Regions from separate parts of the Homo sapiens genome. Here region 2 is linked to region 1. Evidence: fine-mapped expression QTL. Tissue or cell type: sigmoid colon. Region 1 holds a variant in brackets; the other region holds the start of a gene. All regions are shown on one strand. Distances are from middle to middle.

Region 1 (8,000 bases):
CTCCCAGATGCAGCAGTGAGAAACTCATTCCTTTCTCTCTTCCCTGTGGTGACCCAACACCCATGTTGTTTTAAAGACAAATTTAAAAACTCTCAAAAGGACAAAACAAAGGCCCAATAAATCTGACAAATAAGAAAAAAAAATGAGCTAGAGAAAAATAAGACCCAAGTAACCCTGGGTTCAGAAATAATATTCTGGAGCCTGTGACCTCTGTTCTCACGATCTCAGAGGGTCACTGAACTATTTGCCGAAGTGAAAAAATACTTTTGATGGTGGTGGTGATAGGAAATAGTACAAGATTCTGGACACAAATAGATTGAATTTGGGAGATAAATATTCCTTATTTAAATGTCAGAATATTCCATTTCTGTATAATGCTGAGAAGTCACAAAACCAAAATAAAAATAGGGCTAGGCTTAAATGTATCCAGTTAGAGGCAGGGACAGGCTGTCTTTGGCATAAATGTTTCACCGCCACCTTCCAACTGAGATTTCTGCTCCATGGATGAAACTTGAGTATTGTTAAGTTCATTGCTACTTGTCACATTGCAGGATTTCACAGGCCACGTGATTAGTCGCACAAGTTGGATGGAGTTGGGGGATTTTATGCACACAGGTTCCCAACCATAAAATCTCCCAACTCTGGCCGGGTGCAGTGGCTCACGCCTGTAATCCCAGCACTCTGGGAGGCCGAGGCACGCAGATCACCTGGGGTCAGGAGTTTGAGACCGGCCTGGCCAACATGGTGAAACCCTATCTCTACTAAAAATACAAAAAATTAGCTGGGCGTGGTCGTGGGCGCCTGTAATCCCAGCTACTCAGGAGGCTGAGGCAGTAGAATCACTTGAACCTGGGAGGTGGAGGTTGCAGGGAGCTGAGATCGCGCCATTGCACTCCAGCCTGGGCAACAAGAGTGAAACTGTCTCAAAAACAACAACAACAAAAAACCCAACTACAACTTGTGCAGCTTCCCAACCAGTGTCTCTTTCAGAAGAAAAATTAAAAAGAGGATTGGACAATAAAAGATTGGACAACTCTATCAAACATCAAACAATACACATGGTCATAATTTTCCATTACTGGATGAAGTTGGAGAGATACAATTCTTTGAAGTAAGACGGCAGAAACCTTGTAGGAATCCAGGAAACCTTATTATATACCAAGCACTTCTGGAATCTGCTTAACCAATCTGCCTCACACAAATAAAGACGGTCAAGCTGACATGGCTTAAAAGGCACATGCATTTGTGAGCACAAATGAATTCATAGTGACTTTTTGCCATTGCATATTTTCTCAATCAATAGTCCTCAAAATCTGATGACTTATCATGGGAAGGTTATGAGGACTTTTTAATATCACAAAGGAGTTCTTGTGTTTTAAACACATACAGATTTAAGAAAAAAAAGGATAGCAATAACTTCAGATCCCGTGCTGTTTTGAGAGCCACTGGCTAAACTGGGTTTCCAGTACTACAGCAGCTAACAACCCTGCCCTAATGACCAACGAGGGGAAGTAAATCTGGGTGTTTACACGTGCCTTTCACAGGATGCTTCTTTTACCTAGTAGACAACCTCATGCCTAGTTTTCCTATCCATGACCAGGGGATCTCTCCCAGGAGGAACTTATTTATAACTGCTGATGCCCTTGCAGCTCTTGTCTGACCCATGTCCAGTTTATGTCTGCCTGATCATCGCTCTGGCACTGGAAGCCCAACCTTGTAGTCTCCCCGAGGGAAAACCCAGTCTGCGGTAGTTCCTAGGTCTTCAGATGAAAGGTGCAAATTCAATACACCACCATATAGAAAATAAGCTCAAAGATTTATTACTTACACATCCTGGGCAGGGAGGGTGCAATGAATCAAGAGGACAGTTTTCTGCTCCTGCATCACACAAGGCAAGAATGAAGAGTCAGCCCGAGAAAGAGAGAATGTGGCCAACTAGTGGTACATAAAAGGGAATAGCGTGCGGGTCACTTTAAGTTTGCAGGCAAATGCCTGAATGATCCATTTAAAGGAAGCAGTGGGAAAGCATGGAGCCTGGTCTCCCAGGTTGGGGAGATGCCTCTGAGTTCTTATCTCTGGCCAGGGGCTTCAGCCATTTGGGTGTGATGCTTCTCTTGTAACTCCAAGGTAACCTATGCTGTGTTGCTCAGTTCTACATGCCAAGAAATAGCTCCTCTTTTCAGCAAGTAAAATTATCTCACTGCTTTTCAGTTTCTTTTTTATCGAAGTGTTGTCAACAAGTTCCTTGAAGCTGTAAAATCCAGAAGCGAAATGGATCACTTCCATTTGATCTGTATTCCCCATTGCTTAGTATACACAAGGAGCTTAATGGGCATCGGAGACTTAGTTGTGGAATGAAGAGAGAAGGAGAGAGTGGAAAGGAAAGAAAAGAGGACAGGGAAGAGAAGGAGGAGGAAGAAAAAGGGGAATGGAGAAGGACAGAAAGTGAGAAATAAAACTATTACAGAAGGGACCCTATATCAGCTGTCAGAACCATCCGTAACTAAAGCAGAAGGAAGACCCTGTTTTTCTTTCCATAGAGGGTAATAGGGTGGTGTGCAGGGCTGGGTTATGACTTAGGAGAGCTCTCAGCTCTTCCTTTGATGACATCCTCCCGCTCCCCAGGTATGGAGGTGCTCCTCTGACCTCCTCTCCCTTTTCCCAAGTCTAAGGCACCAGATGGGGTGAGACAGTGGCCAGGGATGAGTGGAAGAGCACATGCGGGTGGCAGAGAAGCTAGATATCAATTCTAACTCAGGAAAGTAAGTGGGGCAGACTCCACAGTCCTCTGCCCCCATTGTACTGACATTAAATCTGAGGTCAGGTTACATGAACCAAGGTCACAAAATAAGGCAATGTTGATGTTGGGGCAAGAATCTGGATCTCTAAATGACTGGTGGCAACAGCCAACCACACAGCCACTGATGAAGACACCTAGAGTTCTGTTGCACAAGCCAGCTTTACCTCTTACAGAAAGTCGAAAAGGAGCACTTGCAAATTGGAGAAACTACCTGCACTGCTGGCAGGAATGTAAATTGGTTTACATTTTCAGAACACTGGTTCAAAGTATCTACTAAAGTTGAGTAGACGCGCTCTATTACCCAGCAATTTCATTCCTAGGTATATTTCCAAACCAATAAGTGCCTTTGTGCACAAGAAAGGTACAAAAATATCCAAAGCAGACAAAAACTAAAAGTGATGTAAATGCCCATCAGCAGCAAAATGGATAAATTTGTACGATAAAATACCACCCAGCAACGAAAAAAAATAATGAGCTGTGGTTACATGCAGTAATATGTATCAATGTCACAAGAGACATCAATGAATACATGTTGTATGATTCCACCATTTATTTGAGGATCAAAAGAAGACAAAACCACCCCATGGTCATGGAGGACAGAATGTTGATTACTTGTGGGGGGCATATTGACTGGCATGGGCCATGAGGAAGCTTTCTAGGATAGTGGTCACATTTTATAGCTCAATCTGGGTGGGAGTTGCACAGCTGTACAAAAATTAACTGGATATTGGGATTTGTGCAATATAACGAATGTATGTCATAGTTTATAGAAGGTAACAAATAGAAAAAAACAGTGAGTGGCATAGTACAGGTATAAGTGTTCTTTTACTTTGGGGGTTAAGTGAGGTAATAATAAGGAAAGTTGAAGAAAACAGACTTTCTAAACCAGAGGAGAGAAAAATACAAACTTTTTTAAGCGTGATATTTCTTTACAAAAAGAGAAAATTTCTTTAAGGATAAGGGGAAACCAGTCATGTTTAGTTAAATTCTTCCAATTGTTGGAATTGTTTCAAAATAACATGTCACTTTTATTGTTTAAGCCAGAGGTCACTAATCTTTTTTTTTTTTTATGGTAAACGGCCAATTAGTAAATATTTTCAGCACTACAGGCCATA[C/T]GGTCTCTATCACAACTACTCAACTCTGCCTTTGTAGCACAAAAACAGCCATAGACAATGCGTAATACAGGAATGAGTGTGGTTGTGTTCCAGTAAAACTTTATAAAAAACATGTAATGGGCCATAATTTGCAGAATTCTGATTTAACCAATCAAAACATGAAACATGAAATAACTTTTTATATTTATATAAAAGAGATAGCATGTTGCACCTTCTAAAATAGCAAAAAGAACTGTAATGCCTAATGCTGCTAGATAGTGGTAAAATTGGTACATTGATCCACTATTACTATTACTTTAGATGGAAACAAAACTTTTTTTTCTTTGAGACAGGGTCTTGTTCTGTCACCCATGCTGGAGTGCAGTGGAAGGAACACTGCTCTCTGCAGCCTCAACCTCCCAGGCTCAAGTGATCCTCCCACCTCAGCTTCCAAAGTAGCTAGGACCACAGGTGCATGCCACTATGCCTAGATAATGTCTTTATTTTTTGTAGAGATGGGGTCTCACCATGTTGCCCAGGCTAGTCTTGAACTCCTGGGCTCAAGCAATCCCCCCACCTTGGCCTCCTAAAGTGCTGGGATTACAGGTATGAGTCACTGCACCCAGGGTTAACAAACCTTTTGGGCATCAATATGACGCCATATATCAAGACTCCTAGAGATCTTTAGAACCAGTAACCTTTAAATTCTACATCTAAGAGTTTGTTGCAAATAGTTCAAAAGAAAAAAGAAATAGGCATGAAGAAATTTCTTCCATCGTTATCTATACTAGCCAAATATCAAAATGTGTAGCATTTGGAAAATAATGTAATGGTTTCTGGTTTAATAAAGATGATGACATTTTATGCAAAAAATTAAAATAATTGTGAAAGCAGATAGTATAGTTACATAAGAATGCTTAAAATGTAATAATAAGTGAAAAATCATGGACTATAAAAGTATATATAACCAATAATTATAATTAAAGAAATGTGTCTGCAAGTAACAGGGATCAGGAGATAATACATAAATTAAAAACAATTATGTTAAAGTAGTAGATTGGGGTGATTATATGTACAGTCAGCCCTTTCTGTATTTGTGAATTCAAATGATCACAGATTGAAAATATTTTGGGGAGAAAATGGTGTCTGCACTAAACATATACAGACTTTTTTTTCTTGTCATTGTTTCCTAAACCATACGGTGTAACAACTATTTAGATCGCATTTATATTGCATTAGGTATTATAAGTAAACTAGAGATGATTTAAAGTATAAGATGTGCATAGATTATATTCAAATGCTACACCATTTTATATCAGGAACTTGAGCATCCACAGATTTTGGTGTCTGTAGGAGACCCTCAAACCAATCCTCCACAATACTGAGGGACAACTGTATATATAATATATTGCCTTTCCAAATTAAAGTGTTTAAAAAATATAGACTGAGAGGGATTTGGGGCCACTGTTTATCCATGCCATAAATTTTGCACGAGCCTATGTGACATCAATGTTTGACTTACCAACAAGCCATTCATTATATCTTATTTCCACTTTGATGGTTCTCTTGACATTTGACTTTCTCTGGTTTGAGCAATTCACTGCTTGTCAGGCATGGGCCTGGCATGCTGACCTTGTACTAATCCTGGTGTTGGATTGATAACAGACACTAAGATTCTGAATCTCAACAGGCCCATTAGGGAATTCACTGCAAATTTACGCAGATTAAATCCCCTGGAGTTTTACCACTGAGGAAGACTCAGTGGCTCTCCAGGATATTTATGGATATTATCTGTTTCTTAATAAGTACTGTTCCATTATTATTCCAAATATGTCTCTAGTTAAAATTAGGAGGGAAATAAACAAGTCTAATTTTTATGGTATCATCTGGTCACAGGCCAATGGAGAAGCAGTTAAGTCCTTTATTGCTAATCTATGCTTAGAACTGACATATCTCTTATTTGAAAACGTTGCATTTCTGAATAAATGGTTTGCCCTAGACAGTTTTTGGGTCATAGGAGAGTAAGTGACTTAGTTGTTGGGGCATCAGAATGGTTATTAATGATCACCCCCTTCTGATGTCTATATCATCAGTGTATTATCTTTGTGTATACATGAGGTTTATGTACATGCAAAAGTCACCCACATACGTGGGAGCAATAATGAAATCCACATAAAAAATTAGACTCAATCAACGGTCTTTAGCTGCACTTTCCCCGTGGTTTCACATGAGACCCCGTCTACACGTATAAGGAATCAGGATAGCCATTGCGTCCAAATCTAGTTCCAGATCCGATTTAATCGATAGAAGTGCTGGCTCAGTCTTTACCCAAATGTGGGGTTTTCAGTTTTGCCTGCTTTATTTTTAACACTGTTATTATAGTCAATAAATGAAAATGAAATCTTTGGAAGCAATAAAGGCTTTCATGTCTATTTCGATCCTTCCTGGATGAGGAAGCTTAACATTAAAGCTTATCTGACTACGTCTTCCATTCATAGCCTACCCTCATATCTCCTATGTTCTTTATTGTGGTTGGCATGTGGACTAACGCTTAGAAGTGCCAAACCATTTATGCCTCTAGTTTTCACAATCACCAAGGGCTCTGTGTAAACCCAATTAGAAGCCCTGAGAGAAAGAGAATGAATAAAACTCAGGGCAAAGATTCAATATCATGGACCCCAACTGAGTGATTGGATGGCAACTGATATGTGTACTCAACGTCTGCCAATCACAGGATAAAATGTTTCTAAATGGTAAATATTGTTACTTTAAAGAGTGATTCTTAAACCTTATGGATGGAGCTGAAGACCATTATTCTCAGTAAACTAACAAAGGAACAGAAAACCAAATACCCCATGTTCTCACTTTCAAGGGAGAGCTAAAGGATGAGAACACATAGACATATAGAAGGGAGCAACACACACTGGGGCCTAATGGAGGGTGGAGGATAGGAGGAGGGAGAGGATCAGGAAAAACAAATAATGGGTACTGGGCTTAATACCTGGGTGATGAAATAATCTGTACAACAAACCCCCATGACACAAGTTTACCTATATAGCAAACCCGTACATGTACCCATGAACTTCCAACAAAAGTTTTTTAAAAAGAATTATATGGCTGGGTGTGGTGGCTCACAGCTCTAATCCCAGCACTTTGGGAAGCCGAGGTGGGTGGATCACCTGAGGTCAGGAGTTCAAGACCAGCCTGGCCAACATGGCAAAACCCAGTCTCTACTACAAATACAAAAATTAGCCAGGCGTGGTGGTGGGTGCCTGTAATCCCAGCTACTCGGGAGGCTAAGGCAGGAAAATTGCTTGAACCCAGGAAGCAGAGGTTACAGTAAGCCGAGATCTCACCACTGCATTCCAGCCTGGGCTACAAGAGCAAAACTCTAACAACAACAACAACCAAAAAAAAAAAACAAACAAACAAAAAACCTAAAACCATAAAAACCCTAGAAGAAAACCTAGGCAATACCACTCAGGACATAGGCATGGGCAAGGACTTCATGTCTAAAACACCAAAAGCAATGGCAACAAAAGCCAAAATTGACAAATGGGATCTAATTAAACTAAAGAGCTTCTGCACAGCAAAAGAAACTACCATCAGAGTGAACGGGCAACCTACAGAATGGGAGAAAATTTTTGCAATCTACTCATCTGACAAAGGGCTAATATCCAGAATCTACAATGAACTCAAACAAATTTACAAGAAAAAAACAAACAACCCCATCAAAAAGTGGGTGAAGCATATGAACAGACACTTCTCAAAAGAAGACATTTATGCAGTCAAAAGATACATGAAAAAATGCTCATCATCACTGGCCATCAGAGAAATGCAAATCAAAACCACAATGAGATACCATCTCACACCAGTTAGAATGGCAATCATTAAAAAGTCAGGAAACAACAGGTGCTGCAGAGGATGTGGAGAAATAGGAACACTTACACTGTTGGTGGGACTGTAAACTAGTTCAACCATTGTGGAAGTCAGTGTGGCGATTCCTCAGGGATCTAGAACTAGAAATACCATTTGAGCCAGCCATCCCATTACTGGGTATATACCCAAAGGATTATAAATCATGCTGCCATAAAGACACATGCACA
Region 2 (8,109 bases), 400 kb after region 1:
CCCTCCCTCTCATTCAGAGCCAACTGATTTTTGTACACTCTTTCTTGCATTTTGAGACTCTCCAACTTTAGTACCAAGACCCATCTTTGTTCAGGAGCCAACTCCTTCATCTGAGGGCCTTGGAGCCCCAGACAAAGAACACGTAAGGAAAATGCCAGGCCCTCCATGCTCTGGGTTTGGAGTTAATTCTTTCCACTCCCACCCACTCCCCTTGAGGAACGGGTCTCTCCTCCGCTCCTCTGGCCCAGGGCTTCTCAAACTCCCCACCTCTGTTCCTCTAACTGCAGAGTCAGAGGAAGCATGACATTTTTTCTGCCCTTTTGTGCTTTACCTAAAAACTTTGCATTTTCTTCCAGAACCTACCCACATTTAATAATTTTTAGAAATAGTTTTAGTCACTTACCATAAGAGGAAAAAATGGACATTTTCCCACAAAACAATCAGGTAAAACTGGCATTGTGAAAATAGGAAGCATATGTCTCCAGTGCTCCTGGGCCCACCTCTGTGCCCCATGGTACTCGTAAATCTCCAAACATGCCACCACCGCCACCACCACCACCCCACAGCCTACTTCTCAGTTTTCTGAGCGCTTCCTGGCACACACACACCAAAGTGCTCCTGTGTACACCATTTTCAGAAACAAGGCAAAAGGCATTTCCATTCATTTCTGGGTTGGAGAGGCAAGACCTGGTTCTCACCAGGGCCAGTGGCCACGACCCTCCCACCCCCACCCCCACTTCACATCAAGACAGATTCTAGGGGCGTCCGAAGACCTGCAGCAGCTGCCATGCAGCTGGTGGCTTCCCAGGTCCTGGCAGGGCATCAGTTTCCGGCCTTACCTTGTCAGCCATGATCATAGATGCGCCCCCATGAATGCCCAAGATGGGGACGAAGGTGTGGGAGGAGATAAAATCCAGCATCTGGGCTACGGCCTCCTGGTCCGTGTCGTCCCCAAACACGAGGCCGTGGATGCGTGCCCCGGACATGAGGTCGCACACGTGCGTGATGAGGCTCTTGGGGTCGGTGCGGTTCATCAGCAGAGCTACCACGTTCACGTCCAGGGGCAGCCCCGCCGCCTGCTCGGGGCCCCACAGTGTTCGAAGTTCGCGCTCTGTCACGTCGTGGCTGTGACCCAGCATCACCGCAATATTTAGCGCGGGGGGACCCTTCTCCGCCGCCGCGCTCGGCGCCGGACCGCGCCAGACCAGAAGGGCCGGCAGCACCAGCAGGGTCCAATAGCCCACTCTGCCCATAGTCGCCACTGACGGTCCCTGCAAGGTGAAGAGTGAGAGGCAGGGCCGCGGTGAGCAAGGCGACCAGAAGAAAGGGATTACCAACTTGGCTTCCTGCTCTAGGAGCCAGGCATGGAACTCAGCAGCAGGATAGGCTGCTGGGATCACGGACTCCATTCCGAGTCCCCGACGCCATCCACATCCCTCGATCCATCTCTAACTCTATCCACAACTCCAATTCGAGCTAATTCTCCATCCCCCAGCCCCTTCTCGCATCCAGCTTCCTCATCCCCTGTCTCCAGGCACTTCCCCATCCCCATCTCTGTCCATATCCCCCACCGCATTCCCCAAGTTCGCCGCGGGCCACAGACCCTAAGCGCCGCGCGTGTTCTGTACCCCACCAAGCTCCTAGGTGCACAGAATAAACCCTCCATCCAACCCCTCCCACCTGGGATAGAGAGGACCAAGTTATCAACCCCGCCCCCTGCTGGCGCGGAGCGAACTACAGACCCCGCAGGGCGTGCGGAGGCGGCACCCAGACCCCGCGTCCCAGCTTGAGAGCTCAGCTAGTTGGCTGACCCCGCCCCCTACGAGCCCGTCGTGTGCACCACACACTTTGCTCTACGCCCAGCCCCAACTACAGACCCGGCTCCTCTCAGTCAGAGTACACCCCAAGTGCTTGGGAGTGAGGACGCTGCCTGGTGGGCCCAGGCTCCGCTGTGCCTGGGGAACTTGGGGCTCGCCCCACCTCGAGCCAAGGGGCCGTGGAGAGTCCTTCACCCCTACACGCGCGCGTGCACACACACGTGCACACACACACGCACACACACATGTTCACACACACACACCCTCTCTCACGCGCGCCGTGTGCAATGCTGAATTCTGGAGAGTAGGCGCGTCCCCCCGCGGGCCAGCGCGTAGGAGCTGGCAAAGAACGTGCGTAGGGGGAAAGGTAGGCTCCCAAGAAGCTCCCAGACGGACGTGGACTGTACAGCCCCTCCCTAGCCTTTCTACTGCGGGCGCTGTTGCCAAGTCCTAGGTGCACGTGGGCAGTGGGCCGCACACGCTCATAGGCACGCGCGCTTTTCTGCGCACTTCCTCAGACTGCTGTAGCGGTGCCCACGGCCAGCCGGAGTCCTCACATGTCCTCAGGTGGTGCACACGCATGAACTGCGGCAGGTGCACAGCCCTGCGTACCTGCAAATACCAGCACGGTCGTGCACGCGTGCCCTGACGCGCGCCTCTCGGGACGGACGCTGCTGGAGCCGGGGGAAGTTGAGGCGAACTCCAAGAGGCCTCGACGTTCCTGGGTAAGCGCCGCGGAGCGCGGAGCCGCAGCGCCCCCTGGTGCCCCTCCTGCACTTCGCCGCTGGGCTCCCTCCCGCTTTCCCTCTCCCTCTCTAGCCTGATCCCTCTCCCGCTCTCCCTCCGGTCGAGTCTCCCTCCTCCCCGGCCCAAGGAGCCCTGATCTCCCTCTGGGACGTACCTGTAGCCCGAGAAGGTCGAGGATGCAGTGGGGCGCGCTGCGCGCACGAGCATCTCGGCCGCCTCAGCAGCCACCGGGTTTAGCGGGTTCCCGCATGCTGCGGCCCCAGCGCGCTCCCCTGGCTGTCCCGCGCTGTCCGCATCGCCCCCACGGGGGGCGGCTATCCCAGCCGGAGGCTCTGCAGCAGGGCTCTAACGGGGCGGAGGAGAGAAGGAGAGGCAGGGTCAGCCCACCAACGAGGGGAGGGAGGGTTGAGGGGAAGGCTGCAGTCTGCAGTGCTCACAAGCCCCCCTATGCGCCCAGGGGGGCTAGACAAGAGGGGGGAAGCTGAAGCCCGATGCCCACGACGCCCCCAGTGCGGATCCTCAGCCCCTGTGGCTGATAGCGGGAGCTCCACTCCAGGGTGCACAGGAGAATGGGAGCCCCAGGTTGGCCACCCACGAGAAGCTAACTGGGCACCTCCACCCGCACCCCCTACCACCTCCCCAGCGCCGGCTGCTGGGAGTTGTGCGACCGGGAGCTGCTGAGCGAGGGAGGTAGGGAGAGAAAGAGGAGGTAACGAGGGTGGGGGGGCGCTGGCTGAGTTTGTGACGAGCCAGCAGTAGGAGAGGGGGAGGGAAGGACGCGGGCTCCCGCGGTCCCGGTTCCCCGAGGGAGGTGGATCTTTCCCACGCAGCGACCCTCTTGTGATCCTGCCGCTTCCTCCCTCTTCAGGCCTCCCACCTCCCCCCTTCCCAAGGGGGCCTCCCAGGCCCGGCGTCCCGCGCTAGCACTCACCGCAGCCTCTCTCCACATAGTTCTCAGCAGTGGCCGCTCCTGGTCATCTCCAGGGCTGATGGCTGCGGCCGCGATTCTCAGCGCTCACCCGGTCCCATGATCCGGCCAAGCCCTAGGAGCTCCCCTCCAAGATCCCTAGCTCCGCTTCCTGCCCCACTCCGGACGGCAACTGCCCGGTCCTCTGAGCGCGCCGGAGCACCCTCTCCGCAACCCAGCTCCGGGCTGGTGTGTTTGAGGGCGAGTGTGTGTGTGAGTGTGGGAGCGCGCTCGCGTGTGGCCGGGGATCCCCGCGGTCCCCGGCCGAGAGAGGCGCGGGCGGGGAAAGGCAGCTCCCTCCGGGCCCTTCGCTGCTGGGCCAGCTCCGCGCCGGGCGTTCGGCTCCCCACTTCCCAGCGGGAGTCCGGTGAGCGCCTGGACACCCTGGTTCACAGCACTGGCAAAGCCGGGTTCCCGGGGCGTCTTTCTGCTGCGGTCGCCTCCGAGGAAGAGGAGAAGGAAGGTAGCGGCGCCCTCCACACCAACTTAGGGACTTGTTCTCAGCCGGCGAGACGCAGTAGCCCCCGCTCAAGCCCAAGAGGCTTCGAGCTCCGGCGGGCGAAAGCGTCTCCTGCCCGCAGCCTCTCTCCTAGGTGGGTCGAGACAGACCCCGCAGTCCCTCGGCGGCGACGCGGAGCGCGGCCACCCGTTCCGAGAGCGCACGGCGGCAAATAAGGCCAGGATAGGTGGCTGGCTGGCGACGGGGGCGCCTGCGGCGGCGCGCGCTGCTGTCCGTGGTGTTGGAACCACGCTCTCCGCCCGCTCCCGGGCGTCTGGTGCGGCTGAAGAATCAATTATTCAGATCTCTGCTACCGCTTCCTCCTCCCCCAGTGCCTCGCGCTGGGTACAGTTATCCCCCTCCACGCACAGGCGCGCCGACACACACACACACACACACACACACACACACACACACACAGAGTCTGCTCCAATGCTTCTCCCTGTGCCTCGCCACCCCCGTACGGGAACCCACTCCTCTGATCTCAGGGAGCCAGAATCCTAAAAGCAAAGACATCTGCATTTCCCACATGCTTCCTTCTAAGTTCTACCAAACAGAAGCCTCCCTGAGGCTGCCACTTCTAAGCTACCAGAAGAGGTGAGCCAGAGAACATGGGACGGCCCGGGTGTGTGAGGGCTTGGTTGACTTGAATTCTAGCGACTGGGCATGAAATACATGGTCAAGGGAGGAGCTCTGCCCCTTTTATATTCACCTGTATCTCCAACGCCTGTCTGCCTTTCAGGCCTTGGAAGGAAAGGGGTCTTAAATTCTAAGAGGTTTTGCAATGACTGTTCCAACCCTGCCTCCTCCACTTAACCTAATGTCACCTGCTGCGGTCTAAATGTGTGTGTTCCCACCCCCAAATTCATAGGATAAAATCCTAACTCCCAAGGTGATGGTATTAGGAGGTGGGGACTTTAGGAGGTGACTTCATGGCTTCATGAGAGTAAAATGGGATTTGTGGTCTTATAAAAGAGATGCCAGAGAGTCAGCTAGGTCCTTCCACCAAGTGAGACTTAATCAAGAAGGCATCGGCCTATGAACAGGAACTAGGCCCTCCCCAAATACTGAGTCTGCTGCTGCTTCATCTTGGACCTCCCAGCCTCAAGAAGTGAGAGAAATAAACTTCTGCTGTTGATGATGTTTTGCTATGGCACCTGGATCAAACTAAAATATCACTTTTGGACATTATATTACTTCCCTTTATTGATCACTAATCTGGAAATGGGGGGCAGTAAAAACATCTACTTCTCAGGATTATTTTGAAAAGAAAAGGAAGTAGCCTTAATAAAGGGGTCAACAAGGTCTGGCACATAGTAGATGCTCAATCAACATCATGCACCTTGAAGTAGCCTGGAAGCAGGGGAACTTCTTCCAAGAATGTGGATGTGGCTGCTGAAATGGAGACAGGAGAGGGGCACAGTGTGTGGAGACAAATGGATTCATTATTGAGCTGGTTGTTCTATGCTGGGTTTCCTGGGTTTTTGTTTTTGTTTTTTTTTTAATCCAAAAGACAGAGAAAGCGTGAGGGAAATGCTGGAAAGTAAATTAAAATGGGGGATTGTATAATATAAGGCAGGGAACAGGAAAATGTTTCCTTTCTTGAGTCTATGGCTGGGCTGAACTGATTAGGCCACTCCTTGGCACCCATGCAAGACTCTGGCTTGGGGTCTAAAGGGGAAGTTAGGCCATTTTATTTAAATGAGTTATAAATTATAGACAATAAAATGCATATCTCTCAAGGGTTTCATTTGTGAAGGTTTTTTGGTGTTTTTTTATTTTTTTGTTTGTTTGTTTTGTTTTGTTTTGTTTTTTTGACAGGGTCTCACTCTTGCCCTGGCTGGAGTGCAGTGGTGTGGTCGTAGCTCACTATTAACTTGAACTCCTAGGCTCAAGTGATCCTTCTGCCTCAGCTTCCCAAGTAGTTAGGACTTGTGGTGGTTAGCACATGCCACCACATCTGGCAAATTTTTTATTTTTTGTAGCCATTGGGTGTTGCTATGTTGTCCATGCTGGTCTCAAACTCTTGTCTTTACGAAATCCTCTGGCCTTGGCCTCCCAAAGGCTGAAATTACAGGTGTGAGCCACTGCACCCAGCCAGTTTGTTACTTTTGAGATTGTGTGTATCCACATAGACCGTCACGTAAAATGAGGTACAGAGTATTTTCATCACCACCAGGAAGTTTTCTTGTGTCCCTTTGTTGTCAATCCCACTCCCCCCATTCAGTGTAAACTACAATTTTGATTTCTAATACCATGTATTAGTTTTGCCCTTTTCTGAACTTCATATAAGTGGAATTTTACACTATGTATTCTTTGGTGACTGGCTTTTTTCACTTACCCTGATGTCTAGAAGATTCCTCTGTGTTGTTGCATGTATCAACAGCTTTTTTATTTTTTATTGTTGAGCAGCTAGCTCTCTATTGCATGGATAAGCCACACTTTGTGTATCCAGTCTCCTGCAATGGATATGTGGGTTTTATCTATGGGACTTTTTAAAATACAGATGTGGCTGGGTGCAGTGGCTCACGCCTGTACTCCCAGAACTTTGGGAGGCTAAGGCAGGAGGATCACTTGAGCCCAGGAGTTTGAAACCAGCCTGGGCAACATGATGAGAGCCCAGGAATTTGAAACCAGCCGGGGCAACATGATGACAACCCAAGTGTTCACACTGCTGCACTCCAGCCTGAGTGACAGAGTGAGACTTTGTCCCAAAAAAAATAAATAAAGAAAATAAAACACAGATGCCTATGCCCACTCTAGATCTACTCCATCAGGATCTCCAGGTGTGGGGCCAAGCACGGACAGTTATTTTAGATCCATAGGGGATTCTGATGATGCCTCTGCACTTGCTATTCTCATAAATTGATGCTGACCCTGAAATTGGATTTGTCTTTCTTGAAAAATACTGGTATTCAGGGTTTTAAGTTATTCATGATCAGACTTATAGAAAGATAAATCAAACTGATACGGCCTCTTTTGAATAGAGAAAGAAGGCAGCCCTTCATTGGAAGGGACACTGTGCCTCTAAACATAGGCACAGGAGGCTGGAGTTGCACTGGGGTGGACATGTCACCAGGGTGGAGCACATCGTGTGTCAGGCACCTGGAACTTCACCATACATGCAGAGACTGTGACAGCGTGTATAAGATCATGACAGCCTTACTCCATCTATGCTGCCAAGCTTAATTCTCAATGCAGCTTAGGATGCTAAGCAGAATTTTGCTGCTCAAAGAGTTTCAGATGATAAGAAAAACTTCTTCATAGCAGCTATATCAACTGTGATGGTTAATACTGAGTATCAACTTGATTGGATTGAAGGATGCAAAGTATTGTTCCTGGGTGTGTCTGTGAGGGCGTTGCCAAAGGAGATTAACATTCGAGTCAGTGGACTGGCAGACCCACCCTCAATCTGGGTAGGCACCGTCTAATCAGCTGCCAGCACAGCCAGAATAAAAGCAGGCAGAATATGGAAAGACTAGACTGGTTCAGTTTTCTGGCCTCCATCTTTCCCCTGGGGCTGAATGCTTCCTGCCCTGGAACATCGGACTCCAAGTTCTTCAGCTTTGGGACTCGGACTGGCTTCCTTGCTTCTCAGCTTGAAGTCTATTGTGAAACCTCACCTTGTGATCATGTGAGTCAATATTCCTTAATAAACTCCCCTTTAGTCTGGGCACGGTGGCTCATGCCTGTAATCCCAGCACTTTGGGAGGCCGAGACGGGTGGATCACCTGAGGTCAGGAGTTCAAGACCAGCCTGACCAACATGGTGAAACCCCAGCTCTATTAAATACAAAAAATTAGCCAGGCATGGTGGTGTACACCTGTAATCCCAGCTACTTGGGAGGCTGTGGCAGGAAAATCACTTGAACCTGGGAGGCGGAGGTTGCAGTGAGCTGAGATTGTTCCACTGCACTCCAGCCTAGGCAACAAGAGCAAAACTCCGTCTCAAAAAAAATAAAAAATAAAATAAAATAAAATAAACTCCCCTTTATATATACATCTATCCTATTAGTTCTGTCCCTCTAGAGAACCCTGGCTAACAGAACCGACAAAGACTTCTCTAAGTGAAAGAACAAG

The links. PIP is the estimated chance that this variant, and not a neighbour inherited with it, causes the effect.
Region 2: GRIN2A starts here. The variant in region 1 is fine-mapped to the expression of GRIN2A in sigmoid colon (GTEx, PIP 0.99).

Annotation. Positions count from the first base shown.
Region 1 is chr16:9,777,139-9,785,138 of GRCh38, forward strand. The region is part of intron 11 of GRIN2A (glutamate ionotropic receptor NMDA type subunit 2A); the gene reads right to left. Among named protein-coding and RNA genes, the nearest start is that of LINC01195, 330 kb to the left of the region's middle. The variant C/T (reference allele first, on the strand shown) is at 3,916.
Region 2 is chr16:10,179,159-10,187,267 of GRCh38, forward strand. GRIN2A (glutamate ionotropic receptor NMDA type subunit 2A) reads right to left here and starts at 3,270. Exons shown (of 13, transcript NM_001134407.3): 1 at 2,719-3,270; 2 at 840-1,271. The coding sequence starts at 1,253. RefSeq lists silencers at 2,358-2,467, 2,478-2,537.